Linked DNA regions of Homo sapiens: region 1 is linked to region 2. The links come from fine-mapping of genetic effects on gene expression. Tissue or cell type: sun-exposed skin. Region 2 holds a variant in brackets; the other region holds the start of a gene. All regions are shown on one strand. Distances are from middle to middle.

Region 1 (10,429 bases), 100 kb after region 2:
GAGAAGATCTTTTGTCCTCTTAGGGTAGAAGAGGAAAGAGAGACTTTTTTTCTGCTTCTGAAATCTCCCAGCATATTGCTTTCGACTTGTCAATGGCAACACAGCCTTTGGATGCTCACTTGACCCTCAACGTGTCTGGTCCTTTACAATTCTATGCATTTTCCTGTAGCGAGATCCCTTCTCCGTCTTCCACCACCCACTGCTTTGGCTCCCCTCTTGCTGTTCCCTGCCTGCATCTGGGCAGGAAGTTCCAATCCTGACTTGACCCTTTTTCAGCTGTGTGGCCTAGGACTCATTGCTCTTTTCTCCCCATTTCATCATCTGAAAATGGAAAAAATAATACCTGACTAGAAAGTGAAAGTAAAAAAGAGATATAATGGACAATGTGCCTCGCACAGGGCCTGGCATGGAGAAGTCCTTGATGTACGTCTTTTCCTTCCCTTTTATGCAGCCGTTTCCCTCACACCCACCCATTGATTGATTTTTCTGAAGAGACTACTTTTGTCATGTCACCCTCTAATCCCCAGACTTTAAACTGGGAGGTAGCAGAGTGGTCTGATTAAGACCTTAGACAAGGGTTTCTTGTCTGGGCGCAGTGGCTCACGCCTGTAATCCCAGCATTTTGGGAGGCCAAGGTGGGCAGATCACTTGAGGTCAGGAGTTCGTGACCAGCCTGGCCAACGTGGTGAAACCCCATCTCCACTAAAAATACAAAAATTAGCCAGATGTGGTAGCAGGCTCCTGTAATCCCAGCTACTCGGGAAGCTGAGGTGGAAGAATAGCTTGAACCCAGGAGGCGGACCTCAGCACTTCTGCCTGGGTGATGGGAGTAAATCCTGTCTAAAAACAAACAAACAAAAAAAAAAAACTTAGACAATGGTTTCTCAGCTTTTTTTAATCACTCCCCAACAAGTCCTTTTAGATATTATATTCTTTTGTGTGTGGCGGGGTACATAGCGTGTGTATATGTTTGTAGGTTACATGAAATGCTTTGATACAGGCATGTAACGTGTGATAATCACATCAGAGGAAATGGGGTATGCATCACCTCAAGCATTTATCCTTTGTGTTACACACAATCCAATCATACTCTTTTAGTTATTTGTAAAGGTAAATTAAATTTTTTTTACTATAGTGCCCCTGTTGTGCTTGTAAATACTAGGTCTTATTTATTCTAAGTATTTTTTGTGCCTATTAACCACATTATATATATATATATATATATATATATATATATATATATATATATAATTTTTTTTTTTTTTTGAGATGGAGTCTCGCTCTTTCGCCCAGGCTGGAGTGCAGTGGCGCTATCTCGGCTCACTGCAACCTCCACCTTCCGGTTTCAAGCGATTCTCCTGCCTCAGCCTCCCAAGTAGTTGGGATTACAGGCACCCGCCACCACGCCTGGCTAATTTTTATATTTTTAGTAGAGACAGGGTTTCACCATTTTGGCCAGGCTGGTCTTGAACCCCTGATCTCGTGATCCACCCACGTTGGCCTCCCAAAGTGCTGGAATTACAGGCGTGAGCCACCATGCCTGGCCCACATTACATTCTTACTCACCTCCCCCTACCATGGAATTTTATTCCACAGATATGCTATTGGTTTAGCTACTATATGTATATCTGTGTTTTATACATAAAGCACAAGAACCTTCCAGAACCAATTTTCGCCACCTTGGAAGTAATACCACCTCTACTAAGAATGCACAGCATAGACCATAAAACCTCAATGCTAAGTTCAAATATTGGCCCTACCACACATGAGCTGTGTGGTCTTGTACAAGTTACATAACTTCTCCTCCTTGTCTCAAACTCCTCACATATAAGATGAGGATAATAATAGTACCTGCGGCCACACACAGTGGCTTAAACGTGTAATCCCAGCACTTTGGGAGGCTGCGGCAGAAGGATCACTCAAACTCAGGAGTTCAAGAGCAGCCTGGGTACATGGCGAAACTCTGTCTCTACAAAAAATACAAAAATTAGCTGGGTGTGGTGATGTGTGCCTGTAGTTCCAGCTACTTGGGAGGCTGAGGTGAGAGGATCGTTCGAGCCCAGGAGATCAAGGATGCAGTGAGCTATGATCATGTGGCTGCACTCCAGCCTGGATAACAGAGCCAGACCCTGTCTGAAAGAAACAAAAACAAAAACATTAGCACCTGCATCATAGGGTCACTGGGGGCACTACATGAGTTCATGTACATCGAGGACTTAGGACATTGCCTCAGGCAGACCTAGTGCTGCACAACTGCTTATGTAATTATTCCCAAATTTCTCCAGGGCCCACAGAAGAACATGGAAGTATCTTGGTTTGGCAATTAAGGTGAATCACATTCTCACTCTCCTTTTCTGCATCTCTACCCCACATTCCCACAAAGCTTTATTCACACCAAGTCTCCAGTCCTTGCCTGCATTGTGTGATGGGTGCCTGCAGTGATGGGTGGGGACACCCATCACTGTCCAGGGTGTCCCCACCATCCTCACAGCCTCTCTGTCTGGCCTCCTGCCTTTGAGCCAGCCCACCACACTCTCATTTCTCTGCCCAGCAGAAACCAAACTGTCCTCTGCATTTACTGTCTCAACTGGAAGAGAAATGCAGAATGACAAAGAACTTGTGAACAAGGGTCAGCTCCAACAGAGAGTGAAGCCAAAGGGGCTGGGCAGAAAGAGAGATGAAGACGGGGATCTAAGGAATAAGGCTGTACCAGAGTGAGAGTACGGGGGAGGGGTTGAACAAGAGTTCAGGGAGGAGAGAATTCCCAGCGCTGAGCCAGAGACTCCTTTACAGAGGCCCAAGGAGGCGTGGAGGGAGGGGGAAGGCTGCCAAGGCTCTTTCTGTCTCCATGAGTGTGTCAAGAATGCAAAGCACTAATGCTCTTCACTTGGTCCATCTTGCAGGGTTGAGTTTGCAGTGAGCAACCTTGAAGGATGAGCTGACATCTCGCTCAGGGCCAAATAACCGACTTGCTTACTGCTTGCTATAAAATGGCACGTTACCCAAGGTCAGAGTTCCCTTCCTATAACCTCCCCATCCCTCACACATTCACAGGTATCTATCCAAGCCATGGCATCACTCTGTGGGGCTTGGGGGCAAGGCAACTGACACTGGACGCTGGTTCTCATGCTTGCCAAGCATGAAGCCCTGTGCTGCTAGCAGCTGTGGAACATAGCCGTTAGCTTTAAAAGAGGGTAAAATCACGTCCTGGACAGGACAGCCAGGTGAGTTGGGAAGGGAAGAGAGCCTGCCACGGGCACAGGCATGTTGGGGGAAGTGGAAGTGGTGAGAGCACAGTAGGAAGTGAGAAGGGGCGGGCCGTGCTTACCAGGCCGTGGACTTAAACCAGGATGAGAGAACCCCTGGAGGCGTTTAAGTTGGCAGACTTGGATTTCAGGAAGAGCTCTCTGGCTTCTGGGTGGAGAATGGCCAGTGGGGTAAGTGGTGAGAGGAAAGACAGAGAACGGAGAAGGTTAGATGGGCTTGGGAAATTATCCAGGCCCTGGATGGAGGTAGAGATGTGTGCTCATGAACACGGAGGGGATTACTGATGTGGGGTGGATGAGACTGTCGTCAAGAGTGTGGGACAGGAAGAGAGGGAGAGTCTTGGCCAGATCCAAGAAAGGAGCCCTCAGAAGAGGAGGGGAGTCAGAGGCAAGGAAGGGGCTGAGGCAGCCAGCCCAGCTGAGTGGACCCCAGGAGAGGTATCAAGGGGTGGTGTGGGGTGGGGAGGGGCCAGTGTCAGAAAGTGGATGGGGAGCGGCCTGACTCTGCTTTTGTCCTGTGGCCTTCTGGCCAAAGGCAGGGAAAGGTGGCCAAACACTGAGACCAAGAACAAAGAAAGAAAACTGCTGGTGGACTTCTTCCACCATGAGCAGGCCACCAAGCCCGCAGCACTGCACTGCAGCCCCCAGCTCTGTCCTGGGGTTGGGGGAGGTGAGGAGGGGCAAGGTGGGGAGCACACAGAGCACCCGCTGTCCTCGGAACACCACAGCGACTAGAGGTAAGGGAGCACCGGATGTGGCTGGGATGTGGGCAGCAAGGGGCCAGAGGGGCCTTGAAGGGGTCACAGACCATTTAATGAAGGTGTATTGAAGGCCACCATGGGCCAGGCCCTAGTTAGGGATGGATCAGAATTATATAGCATATGCCAGGGGTCAGGCAGGTAATGAAGTGATCGGAAGGTGATGAGGCAGTGGCAGTTGAGATTCACGTTGCAGTCGCCCCAAGCTGGCCAGGCCAGGGAGCAGAAGCATGGCTGGATGCCGGAGCCCACCAGGCTCCCCACTGCAGGGCAAGAGTGGCAGGGGGAGAGACTGTGAAAGGAGCATAGGCCAGGTCCTGGGTGAAAGCTGTGTCCTCAGCCTTGACTGATGGGTATAGGGAGCCACTAAATGCCTTGGGGCAGAGAGGTGAGGAAAAAAATATTTACCGAGCATCTACAAGGTGCAAGGTACTCACTAGATGCCTTCAGTACCAAAGCTTCTCAAACTTAGTATGCATATCACTCTTCTAAGAATTTCATTAAAATGCAGATTCTAATTCAGCAGATATAGGGCAGGGCTTGAGGTGCTGTCTTTAATAAGCTCCCAGTGCCTGGGACTGCACTTTGAGGAGAAGAGCTGTGTGTGCCCCAGTGTGGTCCAGTGAGTACTCTGGGCTCCCTCTCGTGGGCAGGGAAGCTGAGGGCCCCATGAGCTCTCCCAGCTTCCTGAAGGCTCCCCATTAATGAGAGCTGACTGTGCTGTGCTTTGCTGACTGCAGGGCCTGCTCCCTGCCCCCCACCTCCAGGTTGGGGTAAGTGGCACCTCTCTCCCTCCAGCTCCGCAGTCTTCCCTGAGGTTTAGATCTTCCAGGTTTATAAAGTCAGGCCCTCCTGTTGGCAGCTGGCCTCCACCCTGGAGTATCTGAGCTTGCCTGTGGCAGCATCTAAAGATAGTCTCCCTTACAGGAAACAAGATACTATTGGCTAACTCTGCAAATAAAATGCTCTTAGAGGGAAGGAAAGGGAAATACTCGTCTCTGGTAAAGTCTGAGCAGGACAGGGTGGCTGACTGGCAGATCCAGAGGTTCCCTTGGCAGTCCACGCCAGGTAGGTGCACAGGACTAGTTGGGTACCTGTGGGTGGGGTGGAGCAGTGGACAGCTAATAGGTTAATAATGCCTGTTTGCTTACGTGCAGACAATGGAAACCATTTTCCTGGGGATGTTGTAGCCTAAATATGTCCAAGGGGATGGAAGAGTGGGAGGCAAGGGGTGATCAGATCATTTATAATACACTCAACCTGGTGGAATAGTATTAGAAGCATTAGTAATTACATTTTAGAGACATGGAGAAAAGCTCATGATTTTAAACTAACTGAAAAAAGCATGAAAAATTGCATCTGGATGCTGTTGAGGAATTATTGCTAATTTTTTGAGATGAGAAATTGTATTAAAGTCTTTTTCAAAAAAGAGTCCTTAACTTTTAGAGATGCACACAAGTGTTTATGGGTGAAATTAAATAATTCAGTAGAGACATTAAGTGGGAAATAGAGGAAATATTGACCATGGGTTGCTAATAGTTGAAGCCAGGTGTTGGGTATAAGGAGGTTCTCGCTGCTTTTATTTGAAAAGTTGCTTTTTATTTGAAAATTTAATAATAAAGAGTTTTTAAATTTGTATCTGTATTTTAATATAAATATAAATGCACTTAATATAAATATAAAATATGTATAACATTTAGATAGAGAAAAGCTAAAAGATTACTGTGGTTGATTCTAGGAAACTGCATTGCAGATAGTTTCATGGGTTTTTTTTTCCTTTTTCTTCCACTTTTTGTACCATCTATGGGTTTTTGTTTGTTTTTTGTTTTTTGGGTTTTCTTTCTTGTTTGTGTTTTGTTTTTTGAGACGGAGTTTTGCTCTTGTTGCCTAAGCTGGAGTGCAATGGCACAGTCTCGGCTCACTGCAACCTCTGCCTCCTGGGTTCAAGTGATTCTCCTGCCTCAGCCTCCCAAGTAGCTGGGATTATAGGCATGTACCACCGCCCGGCTAATTTTGTATTTTTAGTAGAGGCGGGGTTTCTCCATTAATAAATTCCTGGCACAAATTTAGTGTTCAATTTTGATATATGTTGTTATAACCATTGTGAGGATACTCAGGCTCAGGTTTGTGTGGGTGGAAAACATGGTCTTCAGAAAGAAATTATGAGTGCAAGACAGGAGGAAATCCATCAGAGGCCCCAGCTGAGGACTGACCACGGCTTGTTATTTCTCTTGCCTTGCCTCTGGCAATCACAGCCTCACAGAGCCTGCAATCCTTGCTTTGTGAGTTTATAGCTCAGTCCAGAGAATGGCTAAGAAAGTTTAGGATTCTTTCAACACCCACTCCACAAAAAAAAAAAAAAAAAAGAAAAGAAAAAAAAATTAATTTTTGAAATACTTGAGGTAGAAAACTTGAGGCAGAAAAAAATTGAGCCAAAAAAAAAGGAAAATTGAACCACGTGAAAGCAGGCAAGAAAGCTTGCATTGCTCAGGGCATCCCAGGCCCAGAGGGCGCTTTGGAGGGAGCTGGGTTTCCTGAGAGGAGGCAGGGTGGGTGACGGACCTGTGCTGGAGAGCCTTGAGGACCACTGTGGGTTGGGAATGGGGGCAGTGGATTGGGGTTCAAAACCCCTGGGAATGAGAAATGGGCTCAGGAAGGCTAGGGTGGATTCTTTCATCTTCCTCTTTGCTTGGCTTTATTTTCACAAAGGAAGGCAGGGCAGGAAATAGTCTCAGCCCAACTTCAGTGTGGTTCTTCTTAGTGCTCAGGCTTACCTGGCACTTGCCACACCTCTGGGATGGGAGCACCTACTATCCATCAGCCACGTGCCAGTCTCCACAAAGTCTGCTCCTGAACCCTGCTCCTCAGCTGGCCCCACTTCACAGATGGGGACATAGGCAGCTTGGCTTTGGAATGAAGGAATGAAGTCAGGAATGAAGTCCTGGCTCTGCACTTGGTGACTGTGCACTGGGCTTGCTAAGTCTGTTTCCTGCTTTTAAAATGGAGATTGTCCATCAGCCTTTGAAGCCATGTAATGGGTATGTGTCAACTTTCTGCAAGGATTAAAGGCATGGTATAGGAAGTCCCAAACACACTGCCTGACCCATCTTTGATGCTCAAGAAACGATATATGTTGTTGTCATGAGGAAACTGAGCCTCAGAAAGTTTGGATACCTGAAAAACACTGACTACTATTGAATGAGGTTGTGAAGAATCCAGAGCTGTAGGGGCAGGAAAGCAAAGAACGTATTAGAGCTGACCCAGTCAGGACGATCGTCTATCCCCTTCCTCACCCCACCCCATCCCAGGAGGAAGCCTGCCCGGCCCTAGGCAGCTATGGCACAGTGGCAATGTCAGGTATGGTTCTCCCTAGCCAGAGACCCTAGCCTCAAAAAACCTCCTTCTTGGGATCCAGGCATCCAACTGCTCCTCCCCAGCCCCAGCCTCTGACCCAGTATCCTGAGTCCAGAGACGTTTGGAACCAGCACCTGTAATGGAGGAGCTGAACAAGGAGGGGAACTTCTGCTGCTCCACAGCAGGTCACGGTCATAGGAGGGAGTGGAACCAGAATGGCAGAATCCAGATCTTGGCTGCCTTTCCCAAGGACTTGTTCTGATTCCTAGCAGCACAGCCCAGGCATTCCGAGAAGTTGGGCTCTCTGGCATCACTCACTCTGCCCAGAAGAGCCAGGGGAAAGTTGGGGCTTCTAGCTGAACCTTGATCCCACCTGCCCTCTTGAGGGGCTCAGAATCTGCTGGCTGCTTCACAGGTGGGATTCTCACGGCACGCTGGCCACAGCTGATGCTTCGACCCCCTCATCTTGTTTGGCCAAAGTGCAGCTTTTTAGCTTGTGAGTAAGGAAGAAAAGCTGTATCATATGTCTTTAAACATCTTCCTAGACCACCTTTGTTTTCCCCTTAAAGTGTGCTTAAGGAGAAAATGGAAAGTCTCTTTTCAGTGTGTTGTATTTTGTTTATTGCAAAATACAACACACTGAAAGAACAATGTCTGGGTTAGCAAAGTATTAGATTTAATTTCCCACATTACTACCATCCAGGCTGAGAAAGAGAACCCCAGAAGCCTCTCTCATGTCCCTTCCTGACCACAGCCTCTTCCTCTCCCACAAAGAACCACAAGTCTGACTTCTATGGTGATCACTTCCTTGCTTTTCCCTATAGTTTGACTGAATCTAAATATCATCCCTAAACAATATAGCTTAGCTTTGCCTATTTTTGATCTTCATATTTGGATTCATACTTTTTGGTTTGGCTCAAGACTAAACTTTTAAAATGCATCCACGTTGTAGGAGATGTACATGCACAAAAATTTTCACGGCAACATTGTCCAAACTAGCAACAAACTGAAAGCCACCTATGTGTGCATTAGCAGTAGAAATGGCAATAAATCATGGACTAGTCACACAGTGGAATCCTACGCAGCAAGGAGAATTAGCAGTCTACAGCCAAACCAACAGCATGGGTGAGATGCTTCCAGAAATACTGAGATGAATTTAGAGATAAAGGCACAATTGGTCCATATCTACAGGGCACTTAATCCAGTGCATCTCCACTAGACAAAATTTGTATTTCCATGAGCAAGAGTCATTTGCACTGCTATCTGCTATAACCTACGGTGCTGTAAAATTAGCTCAGGCAATAAAAGGGGGAGGTAGCCCCAAAGAGTATGCCAGAAAGGACTCCCAGTAATCTTCAGTGTGTGTCTATTTCAAAGTCTTTCATCATTTTTCCTTGTAGTTACTTAGTGTGGAATTTCAGACCCCTCTCTATGTCCCTCTTCTCCCTTTTCAGCCTTGGCTTTCTCTGCATCCTTCCCCGAAGCCCTGCACTCAGCCTAAACTGACTTTCCTGAACACTCTGGGAGCATGTGGGCTCCTCCCAACTCCACCATCTTCACTGCCTTCTGTTCCTATTTCCCTCTGCCTGGCCTTGGCCCCAGGAAACCTTCCTATGCTCAGACCCTCTGTGCCTTTGTCTTCAAAGCCCACCCACTATTCACTGCCACCTCCATCTTGGTCAACCTGGAAGACTTTCCCCATCCTTAAAACATCAGCTCAAACGGCAGATTTTTTTTTTTTTTTTTGTGATATCCTCTTGATCACCCTCCCCCAGTTTTTAAGGAGACAGATATAGAGGTTCAATCCTTGGGCTTCCCATGACTTTTCTTATATTCTGTTACTGAGCAATAATAAACACTTCTAGGAACTGTATCTTAAACACTTTTGCCTCTACAGAATCTAGCACAGTGCCTAGTATTGGTGAAATATAATTAACAAAGTCTTCTTTCAACACAGAGATTCTCTCCACAAAAGGAGTAGAGAAAGAACAGTTTTATTATGGAATAAGCAGTAAACCAAAATATGCAGAGCATTATAGGCCATCTACTAAGAGGTTGCAAGAACAGAAAGAAATCTCCCCCTTTTGTATAGCCAAGTAGATACAACCTGTTACATACATGTTATCAAGGCAAACAATAACTGTTCCTCAAGTAAGAGGTCTTGCCAGCACCGTTTGCCGTACATGGTTCACTCTAAATTTACCTGGTAATTAGGGTAACCACTTGTGTTAGCTAACTGGCTCTACCCAGAGGAAAATCAAATTTATCTTTAAGACAAGGGGTAATTTTGCAGCACTGAGCAAGGCTCTTCAGTTAGGCTCATACCTTCCCACAGAAACTAAGAGATAGAAGCACTATCTCCCTTAGGTTTGTTTACATTTCAAAGAGATGACGCCCAGGTCCTTGGGAAAGACTAGCTTAGCTCATAAAGCTGACAAAAAGCCTATCTAGTTTCAAAAGGATTTACACATGTTCAAAGAGAGGAGAAAGTATGTAAAAGTTTTCTAGGTGGGCACGGTGGCTCACACCTGTATTCCCAGCACTTTGAGAGGCTGAGGCGGGTGGATCACCTGAAGTCAGGAATTTGAGATCAGCCTGGCCAACATGGTGAAACCTTGTCTCTACTAAAAATACAAAAATTAGCTGGGCATGGTGGTGGGCGCCTGTAATCCCAGCTACTTGGGAGGCTGAGGCAGGAGAATCACTTGAACCCAGGAGGTGGAGGTGGCAGTGAGCCAAGATGGCACCATTGCACTCCAGCCTGGGCGATGAGAGTGAAACTCCATGTCAAAAAAAAAAAAAGTTTTCTAAAGTAAATGCTCTGAGAAAAAAACAGAAGGTGAGGAGATCTCTGTCCTTATTTTTAACAAGAATAATTAAATGTTTTTATTTTTAATTTCTACTTAGACTAGAATATGGTACAGATGCTCAAAAATATTGACTTAATTAATAATTAAACAATTAACAAGTCTATCTCTTTCCTAATTATTAAAAAAATTATGAAGTATTTCCCTTCAAAATTTCACAGTTTACTTTGACATAAATAAATAA
Region 2 (10,429 bases):
AGACTAAATATACCTCCCTTAGTTCCAGGAGCTGCAGCTTCCAGCACTGGTGCTATCATTACAGGACAGCATCCTTTCTCCAGACCCCTAGAACCCAGTAGTATCACAAATGACTGTGAAAAGGTACTTAAAATCCAACCAGTGACCTTCTTCCCCTTCCCTAAAATAAATAAATAAATAAATAAACAAATAGCTATCTTCTCCAAAAATGTTTGGCAAATTCATCCCCAAAGACCTCTTCCCTTATTAAGTGGCATTTGCACTATTATTTTTTAAATAAATGACACATTGTGGCCCTAAAACATTAAGATGAATATATATAAAGTTTCCATTACACATCACATAACTACTTACCTGGAACTGAAATATTTGTAATCTGCAGTATTTGCTTAACAGAGAAGAGAGTGTATCTCAAATTCCACCAAAGAAGCCAGTTATAACTGGAATTCCTCATAAGACTGTTGGAGGCAGGGGGTGGGGGGAACTAAGGTCATTAAAAACTGGAGTTTACAACCACGATGCAATAACTTCTGAAGTACCAAAGGGTGGTCTGATAAGACAACAGGTAAAACCAAGTAAGGTGTGCGTATTTTAGCAAGTCTGTATCTACATCAACTCCCTCTCCCCAAGAGGTGTCCTGCTCTTCTGCCAACCAATATTCTCATGAGTTCTGTGTTTCTAGTCTCTCCCCAAGACTTTGTGGCATTAATGAGCCCCCCTTCTTCACACACTGGGTCTCTCGCTCCCACTGGCATCTCCTCTTCTGCCAGGCAACAGGCTCCAAAGCATCCATCTTTCCAGCCTGACGCTACACCATCTCCACTTGCTCTGTGCCAGTCCCTCCGCAGGCCCCCCCAGTTTGCTATCCAGCTAAATCTCCTCCACTAACACAGCCTCTGAGGGCTCACCAAGCACCTGCTGCACCCCAGGACCCCGTTCCTGTCCCTGCCCTTATCTTACTTGGCCTCTCTGGTACATGCCATATAGCTGAGTGCCTCTCCTCACAGTTTCTGGTTTCTCTCTCCTTCTCTTCTTTGGCCTGCCCTTCACATAGGACTGCTCCTCTTATCTCCTTTCAGAGTAACCTCACCCATATCCAGGCTTCACACACATGCTGGTAATGCCCACATCTCCAGCCCAGGCTGGCCTCTCCCCAGACTCTGCTAATGTCTCCTTGTCTTCCCTCAAATGGCCCACAGGCATCTCAAATTCAACATGTCCAAAATGGAAACTTGGTCAACAGTTCTCCACACACTTGCCTCTTCTCCAATCCACACTGGGATACTCCAGGAATCCAGGTTGGAAACCTCAGAGACACATAAAACTCACCATGCCTGCTGCTACATGACCAAGTCCCACTGACCAAGCCCTCAATCTTCCCAGTCTGGCCTCCACTGATCCATCCTAATGACCTCTGCAGCAGTCTCCAGCCTCAACTATGCCAACCCACCCTCCACTCTGCTCCCAGAGTAGCACTGGGCGAGGCATCTATAGACACCACCTCAAAATCTCATAGCATCTTATGAGCTAGGTATTTTAAACCCGTTTTACAGATTAAACTGGAGCTCACAGAGGTTACAAATGTGTCCTATGTCACAGGGGTTGAAGCCACTGGCCAGGACTTAAAGTTCATACTCTTTTCACCATACCACCCAGTCTAAAGTGAAAATCCAGGATACTTAGGCCACTCAGTGCATTCCACTATTCACCACCACTCCCTCCTTGAAATGCTCTCTTCCTTTGGCTTCAGAGATTAATACTGTCCTGGGTTTCCTCCCACTTCTCTGGCCTCTCCCTTAAATGAACCATACTCCCATGGCTCTTCATCCACTTCCAAGGGTTCCATTTCCACCCTCCCCTCCACACTCTCAGCCTCTCGCTGGAGCTCAGTCTCACACAGCCACGTACTCAGATGGCCACCTCAGATGATGTTTCCAAACCTGAACTTACCTTTCTCCCACACCTCCGACCAGCTCCTCCTCCAAGGTGCCCCATCCCAGTGAATGCCATGCCATTTCTCTAGCACCCCAGCCAGAAACCTGAGCACCATCCTTGGACTTGGCCTCTCCACACTTGTTCACTCTATCTCCAAAACAGCTCTCAAATCCACCAATCCATTCCAGCTGAGAACCCTGTTATCTCTTGCCTTGGTGACGGCCACCAATTTTTTACCCATTTGTCATCTATATGACCCCTCTAATCCACTCTTTACCCTGAAGCCATAGTCATCTTCTGTTTTATTATTTATTTAGAGACAAGGTCTTGCTCTGATGCCTAGGCTGGAGTGTAGTGGCACAATCATGGCTCACTGCCAACCATGACCTCTCAGGCTCAGGTGATCCTCCCACCTCAGCCTCACGAGTAGCTGGGACCACAGGTGTGTGTCACCGTGCCCAGCTAATTTTTTTGTAGAGACGGGGTTTCGCTATGTTGCACAGGCTGGTCTCAAACTCCTGGACTCAAGCAATCTGCTCACCTCTGCCTCCCAAAGTGTTAGCATTATAGGTGTGGGCCACCATGCCCCGCCTGAGTCATCTTTTAAAACTGCAAATTTGATCATGCTGCTTTCAGAAATAAAACCCTTCAATGAAAGATAATGTTTTGTGAAATTTGAAGTTACTAGCTTAAAAACAAGACCAAAAAAAAAGATGGAATAAAAATACAAGTAATGACAAATGTATTAGGAGCTACAGAGTATCCCACAAATTTGTCATTAATACTAATTGAATTATAATTTTAAAAAACCCAACCAAACCAATACCCTTTAATTGGTTCATATTCCTCTCAGGATAAAGTCCAAACTGCTGGTTGCAGGGCCTTTCATGTATCACAGGGCTCCTGCTAACCGTTTTGGCCTATGTTCTCACCCTCCCACTAACACACTCTGCAGCCATACTGGAGGACTCCGCCTTACTTTCACCTCTGAAAACTCTGACATGTTGTTATGCCCTAGCACCGGTCTTGCTCCCTAACTCCCCCATGTCCAAGTTCAGTGCCTCTCCTTCCGGCTTCTACAGCAACACCTGTCCCCATCTCCCTTATGACTGCGTGTCAAAGACAGAATAGTCACAACTCCTGCCTGTCTTGTTCATGGTGATATCTCAAGAACTGACCTCGGAGCCTGGTGCACAGTAGGTGTTCAGCAGTGACAGCGGAATGAATCTTACCACCTAACAGGAAACCTTATGCTCTCCCTTTGAGCACAATCCCACATGATAGGGCTCGGTGGGCCCTGCATGACTCATCCCAGGATGGGTTAATCTCCCCCACCTCTCTCCAGGCCCCTTGCTCCAGCAAGGCTATAGGAATGACCTGCAGTTAGTTTCTGGGCAGTTATGTTAGGCGCTGCTTCCCCAGTGCTCACACAGGTGCTGTGTGGAATTTGTTTTAAAACAAATTTGCTGCTGTCCTTGACCTTCCCACCCTTGATTGCAGGAAATATCTTCTTAACGTCTTTTATTTCACAGCACAGTGATTAGACATGTTATTGGCTCAAGTTATTGAGCCAATAACTTTTTTAGCTTTGTACTTTTCCCAGTCCATTAGCACAGAGCAGATGTTATTTATACTAGCAGTATAGATCAACTTCTAATAGGCAAAAACAAGACAACAACAACAACAAAAACCATCCCAACAGGTAATACTGAATGGTCTTAAGATTTTTGTCAATGGTGAATGGCACACATCCTTTGCGAGTGAACTTAACTTTTAAAAAGTAGCTCAAGGCCAAGCGCGGTGGCTCACACTTGTAATCCTAGCACTTTAGGAGGCCGAGGCAGACGGATCACTTGAGGTCAGGAGTTCAAGACCAGCCTGGCCAACATGGTGAAACCCTCTCTCTACTAAAAATACAAAAACTAGCCGGGCGTGGTGGCGCACGCCTGTAATCCCAGCAACGTGGGAGACTGAGACAGGAAAAATACTTGAACCCGGGAGTCAGAGGTTGCAGTTGAGCCGAGATCACGCCACTGCACTCCAGCGCGGGCGACAGGGCGAGACTCTGTCTCAAAAAAAAAAAAAAAGAAAAAAGAAAAGAAAGCTCAAAAATATATTCAAGGTAAATAAAAAAGTAGTTTCTTTTTAAGGGGAGAAAGAAGAGGGCATAAACAATAATACGCACACGAAATAAGTAGCACATAAGAGTACAAACTGGATCCACAAGCAATTCCTACTGCCCTGAAAAAACTATCCTAAGTCCAATTCACATCTGGAGGCGAGGGCTGGAGAGCCCTGAAAAAGGTAAGCAGGTTTTCAAAGACGTCAACGTAAAGTCGCCACCGCCGCCGTCTCCGCCTTTAAGGATTAAAAAAAAAAATAAAAGCCGCCCCTACCTCGGGCGCAAGACCTCAGAGGGAGAGCTGCGGCAGCTGCAGTGGCCTCAGGCCTTTAGCGTCTAAAGACTGGTTGCACCCCGACTCCACCTACCGGGCAACCACGCCGCCAGCCCCGCCTCCGCCTCCACCAATAGCGGCCCGGCGGCCCGGGCACGATGACCAATCGAACGCCGGAGGAGGCGTGGCGTCGCTGGGGGACCACGCGCCGTCCCAACAGGCTGGAAG[G/A]GTGCCGCCACGACTGGCCCCTCCAGGTAGGCCGCCGCCCGCGGGCGCACAGCGCTACCCGGCCAGCTCGCTGCGGCATCAACGGCTTCTCAGCGTCAGCGCTATTATCAGGCCTTGTGACCGTCCCAAATCTGCCCGGGTGCCCTTCCACCTGGCAGCCTACTCGCACCTTGTGGGGGCCGCGCGGGCACACTCCCCGGCACGCGTCCAGTCCAGGCCCCGGCAATTCCGCCCTTTACCGGGACATCGGCCCTACAGCGCCTGCCCCCAGGGCTGGCCTGCAGCTCCTGGCCTCTCCTCACTCCCTGCCCCCTTCTCAATTCCCTTAGTCAGACTCCTCTCCCGCCGCATCCTAAATCCTGAGCGCACCCTGGGGCGCGGAAAAGGGTAGCCGAGCCTTAGCAACGCCCCGAATTCTCCGGCCCGAGCCCGCGGTTCGGACCCCTGCCCTTCCTTCCCCGCAGTGCCCTCACCATAAGCGTTTCCACCGTGTCTCCGACATCTTGGGGTTGCAGCAGCGACGGACGTGAGTTCTGAATCATTGGAGATGAGGCCCGCGAGTCCTCTGGGCCCAGGGTGCCGTCGACGGGCGCTTGGGCCCAGCCCTGGAGGCCTTGAAGAAGGCTAGGGGGTGGCGCTAGCCAGGCGACGCGCTTTAAGCCGCGGGCTCTCTGACGTCTGCGCCTATAAGCACGCAGCCGCCGGGGTTCGGATCCTGCTAGTCCAGGGGCTGCGGGCGCGGAACAATCTTGCTGCGGGAATTACGCGCCGCTCTTCACCCGCGCCGCAGACTCCGCGGCTCTGCTCTCCTGCCCATCCTGCCCTGCTGCAGGCTTCAGCACCGTAGGAGATGAGGTTCTGTGTATCCCGGGGTGGAGGAAGCGCCGGAGGAACTCTGTAGAAGGGGAGATTTCGCTTCCGGGTGGGACGCTTGTCACGTGAGGGTGTTCTGAGTGCCACCTGGTGAAAACGCCCAGAACTGAAGGATCCGCGCTTCCTTGCACCCAGAACTTAATGGAGCGTCTGCAGGGAACTTTGCTTTTGCGTGGAACGTCTGAACGTATTTACAATCCAGACCTGGTCTGCCCAGTAAGGCAGCCACTAGCCAACGTGGGCTATTGATTTATTAATTGATACATTAATTTTAATTATATTAAAACAAGCAGTGTGGAATGCTTTCTCCTTAAACAGGCGTTTTTTTGTTTTGTTGTTTTTTTTTCAGGACCATATTTCCCTTTAAATGCTGAAAATTTAGTGTGGAATTGATATGTACTGTATGCATAAACCACACGCTGGATGTCTAAGACTGGTGAGGTAAAATCTCAATAATTTTTATATGTTGAAATGATATTTTGGATATATTGGGTTAGGTGAAATATTAAAATTAACTTCAGGCCGGGGGCAGTGGCCCAGGCCTGTAATCTCAGCACTTTGTGAGGCCTAGTCTGGAGGATTGCTTGAGGGAGCCAAGGAGTTGGAGACCAGCGTGGACGACAAAGCAAGACCCCGTCTCTAAAACAAATAATAATAACTTCATGTGTTTCTTTTTAAATGTGGCTAGTAAAACATTTAAACTTTAACATGTGGCTCCCATTACATTTCTGTAGGACAGCGCTGGTCTAGTTGGTCAAAATTCTGGTTTATTGCTCACCTGGAATCTGTCAATGGCTTTTTTGGTCTCCCAACTTCCCCTTATGCCTGTCTGGCTGATCCATGGAAAAGCATTACTGCTGGGATCCTGACACTCCTGTTGAAAATGCAGTGGCCCTGGTAATAAAGTCCAAGCTTTTCATAGCAACCTTCGCTACTTTCCACCTTCATTCATCACCCAAGAACTAGATCAGAAAGGAAAGTGACTTAGGGAGCAAGATAATATTTTTTCAGGCTTCATTCCTGTGCTTCTGAGGTACATAGAACAGGAAGGAAAGTGGTCCCAGAGGAGGTTATTCCCAGAAAGGATTAAGGAAAGTATAAACATTAAAAAAAAAAAAAAAATTACAGGCCGGGTGCGGTGGCTCACGCCTGTAATCCCAGCACTTTGGGAGGCCGAGGCGAGCCGATCACGAGGTCAGGAGATCGAGACCATCCTGGCTAACATGGTGAAATCCCGTCTCTGCTAAAAATATAGCCGGGTGTGGTGGCAGGCGCCTGTAGTCCCAGCTACTCGGGAGGCTGAAGCAGGAGAATGGCGTGAACCCAGGAAGTGGAGCTTGCAGTGGGCCGAGATCGTGCCACTGCACTGCAGCCTGGGCGACAGAGCGAGACTCCATCTCAAAAAACAAAACGAAACAAAATTACAAACCTGCCTGGTGATTGAATACTTTGCTACCCTTTGTTCTAAGCTGCAAGGCTTATTTTTCTTTGTGCAGTAGTGATGTTGATAACTATGCACTGAAACTTCTTTTTAAAGGAAGACCTAATTCCACCCTGACACCCACCCCCGCTGCACTGATTCCATAAGACAAGAATCCCTACTTTTGAGAAATCATGGGTTGGCGTATTTTAGAGACTGCTCTTGGCCACTCTGGGTGTGGGAACACAGGTGGGATCTAGAGTGAAAGCCGGCCCTCCACTCCCTCACCCTTCCAGGTATGCCTGCTTGGCTGTGGGCTCAGAAGAAATGGGCTGGCTTTCAAGGGTGGCAGCTGGCAGATTTCCCTCCTCTGTATCTGCTCCTGCCATGCTTACTCATAACTCTAAAGCCCACAGGCCCTTCTTTTCCCACATCTCCTCCCCTGGATGTTTGTGGGGATGCAGAGATATATAATGATCATGGGGAAAGAGCATCACCCATTGGCAGATGAGTGGGGGGTTTGGAGCAGTACTTAATGGCAAAGTTGGAGGAGTGAATTTTTTTTTTTAAAAAGAAAACATTGTGACTTTAATTCAAAACAAGGTCATTAGCATAAGGCAAGCCTTAATGGATTTATCTGCAGTCAAGGGAAGGTGATTTGGCTCTTATGACCTAACTTCCCTCAATTACACACTGGTCCCTCAAAGATCCAAAGTGGCCCATGTTTTCTGGATTGTATGATCAGGTTACATGATGTTTTCCCATCCCAAGGATTGTAGACACCCTCTACCCAGGAAGAAATACACATGTATCAGTTTGGATACATGACCTCCTCTTAAAACTTTATTCACAGCAAGTCTTGACATCTGGAGGAGTTTCCACCATCCAAGAAGGAAAAGGCAAAGGTCCACATGGGAAGCTGGAGGTGAATGGGAGAGACAGAGGCTGCTCAGATAGGGGCTTTGGTTTCCTGTCTGCCTGTCAGAGCAGGAGGAGGTGGGCCTTGCAGCACCTTGCATCTGCGTCACTTCATTTGTAAGAAGATGGCTGGAATGGTGAAAAGCACACAGGTAAATCACTGCCCCCACCTCCATGTTTCCAGCAGACCAGCTCAGCAAGATCTTTCTACCTGCCTGGAGCCAGAGCTGCTTCTGGAAATATCTAAATTTTCTCTTCTACTGATGCCAAAACAATGAGGCCAGCCTTTGCCTTTTGGAAACCAATAGGGGATTGAGAGGGGAGATACCATGCATTCTCTCTGCTACAACCTCCCTTACCGCCCATCTTCATCAGTCTCTCTATGCCTACTGGCCTCTCAGGTCTAATGGGCATCTTATGATAGTCTTCGTCCTGTAACTAATGGAGGCTCCTCTCCATCTGAATATCTGCTCCCATCCTAAACATGCACAACCTGAAAGAGAAGCCTTAAGAGTCTCCAAGGGCACTGTCTTCACCAGTGGGGGAAGCCACTCTTTGCCTGATCACAAGAATGGGTGAATACTGCAGAAAAAAAGGGAATTCTAATGGCTTTACCCAGAAACTTCCACAAAGAGGATGGTCCTGTCACTGCTTTTGGCTTCACAAGAAGGAAACACCTTTCTTCCTTCTGTGCCAGTGACTATTGCCTGTAACCTCACCCCTGAGCCAAGGGTGACCAGGCTACGAGAGAACAATGAGTTAGAGCGGCTTACAAGCTGGTATCCGAGGGAGGGGCAGATGGCTCTGTGGGGTGGACTGCGTTCCTGCAGGAGTGGGATCTTCACATTCTACTCCAAGGACCAAGTTGTTAGGGGCAGTGGAAGGGAGAGGAGCCATGGTGCGTGCCCAGGCAGTGTGGTGTTTTGTGTTTTGTCATATGGAAGCCACAAGTCACTCCATCAATATTTTGACAAAGCAGTTCCCCATCTTATGGAAAAAATCAAACTCTTCTTGTTTTCCTGCTTTCTTCACAATGAGGAAACGGGCAACATTTTGGCTAAAAGTTTATAAACATAAGCACATATTTTCTGGTCACAAATCTTCTAGGTCCTGATTGATCTGAATTTCCCACAGGGGTAAGCAGGACCCACTTGTGGTTTTGTGGTTTGCTTATAGCTCTATCCATATGTGGAAGGTTTTTTTTTTTTTTTTTTTGGAGACAGAGTTTCACTCTCGTTGTCCAGGCTGGAGTGCAATGCTGCGATCCCGGCTCACCACAACCTCCGCCTCCTGGGTTCATGCAATTCTCCTGCTTTAGCCTCCTGAGTAGCTGGGATTATAGGCATGCGCCACCACGCCTGGCTAATTTTGCATTTAGCAAAATTAGCAAAATGTTGGTCAGGCTGGTCTCAAACTCCCGACCTCAGGTGATCCGCCCACTTTGGCCTCCCAAAGTGCTGGGATTCCAGGCATGAGCCACCATGCCAGGCCAGCTTTTCTTTATCTTGGACAGAATGACTTCATTTATAAGCAGCATCTTGTGTAACAGTCAGTTTTATGTGTCAACTTGGCTAGGCTATAATACCCAGTTTTCAATTAAACACTAATCCAGGTGTTGCTGTGAAGGTATTTTGTAGATGTGGTTAACCTCTGTAATCAGTTGACTTTAAGTAAAGGAGATTATCTTTCATAATCTGGATGAAAGAAAATCAGGACACATATTTCCCTGACAAATACACCTTGTTTCCCTTCCTTAAAGGGTAGAGGCTATCTCCTGCTTTTTTCTGTGTGTCTTTGAGAGACCACTGAGGCAGAGTAATGCTGTAAAAAGAAAGTGGACTTTGGAATCAGGCATTGATTCTGTATTTGATCCTGGATTTGTCACCTGCTAGCTGTGTATTCACCTCAACTTTCTTGTTTGTTATTTTGAGATAAGTCTTGTGCTATTGCCCAGGCTGGAGTGCAATGGTGTAATCTCAGCTCACTGCAACCGCCGCCTCCCGGGCTCAAGTGATTCTCCTGCCTCAGCCTCCTGAGTAGCTGGGATTACAGGCGCACATCACCACGCCCAGCTAATTTTTGTTTTTTTAGTAGAGATGGAGTTTCACCATGTTGGCCAGGCTGGTCTCAAACTCCTTACCTCAGGTGATTGCCTGCCTCGGCCTCCCAAATTGCTGGGATTACAGATGTGAGCCACTGCGCCTGGCCAGTTTATGGGCCTTAATTAGAGGTCAAGAGTGAAGCCTCCCATATATAAAATTAAATACTTAGGGTAGATTCAGTGGCTCCGGCTTGTAATCCCAGCATTTTGGGAGGACGAGACAGCAGGATCTCTTGAGCCCAAGAGTTCAAGACCAGCCTGGGCAACATAACAAGACCTTGTCTCTACAAAAATAAAAACAGTAGCCAGGTGTGGTGGAATGAGCCTGTAGTCCCAGCTACTCGGAAGGTGGAGGCAGGACAGTCTCTTGAGCCCAGGAGTTCAAGGCTGCAGCAAACTATGACTGCACCACTGCACTCCAGCCTGGGTGACAGAGCAAGACCCTGTGTCTATGTTTTTTTAATTCCAAATACTTACCAAACATCTGCATTTTTACCAAAAATCTCAAAGCAGAATTTCTAATGACAGATTAGGTATGTAAATTAGAAGTCTTTCCCT

What was found. PIP is the estimated chance that this variant, and not a neighbour inherited with it, causes the effect.
Region 1: CX3CR1 starts here. The variant in region 2 is fine-mapped to the expression of CX3CR1 in sun-exposed skin (GTEx, PIP above 0.99).

What each region holds. Positions count from the first base shown.
Region 1 is chr3:39,274,617-39,285,045 of GRCh38, reverse strand. It overlaps CX3CR1 (C-X3-C motif chemokine receptor 1), which reads left to right and starts at 5,010. Exons shown (of 2, transcript NM_001337.4): 1 at 5,010-5,092.
Region 2 is chr3:39,378,397-39,388,825 of GRCh38, reverse strand. SLC25A38 (solute carrier family 25 member 38) reads right to left here and starts at 5,456. Exons shown (of 7, transcript NM_017875.4): 1 at 5,033-5,456. The coding sequence starts at 5,101. It overlaps LOC105377644 (a long non-coding RNA gene), which reads left to right and starts at 4,501. Exons shown (of 3, transcript XR_007096252.1): 1 at 4,501-4,585; 2 at 5,782-5,873; 3 at 7,706-9,395. LOC105377037 (a long non-coding RNA gene) reads right to left here. Exons shown (of 3, transcript XR_001740661.3): 3 at 7,674-7,899. RefSeq lists enhancers at 4,248-4,317, 4,788-4,837, 4,848-4,947, 4,968-5,147 and a silencer at 4,408-4,557. The variant G/A (reference allele first, on the strand shown) is at 4,560.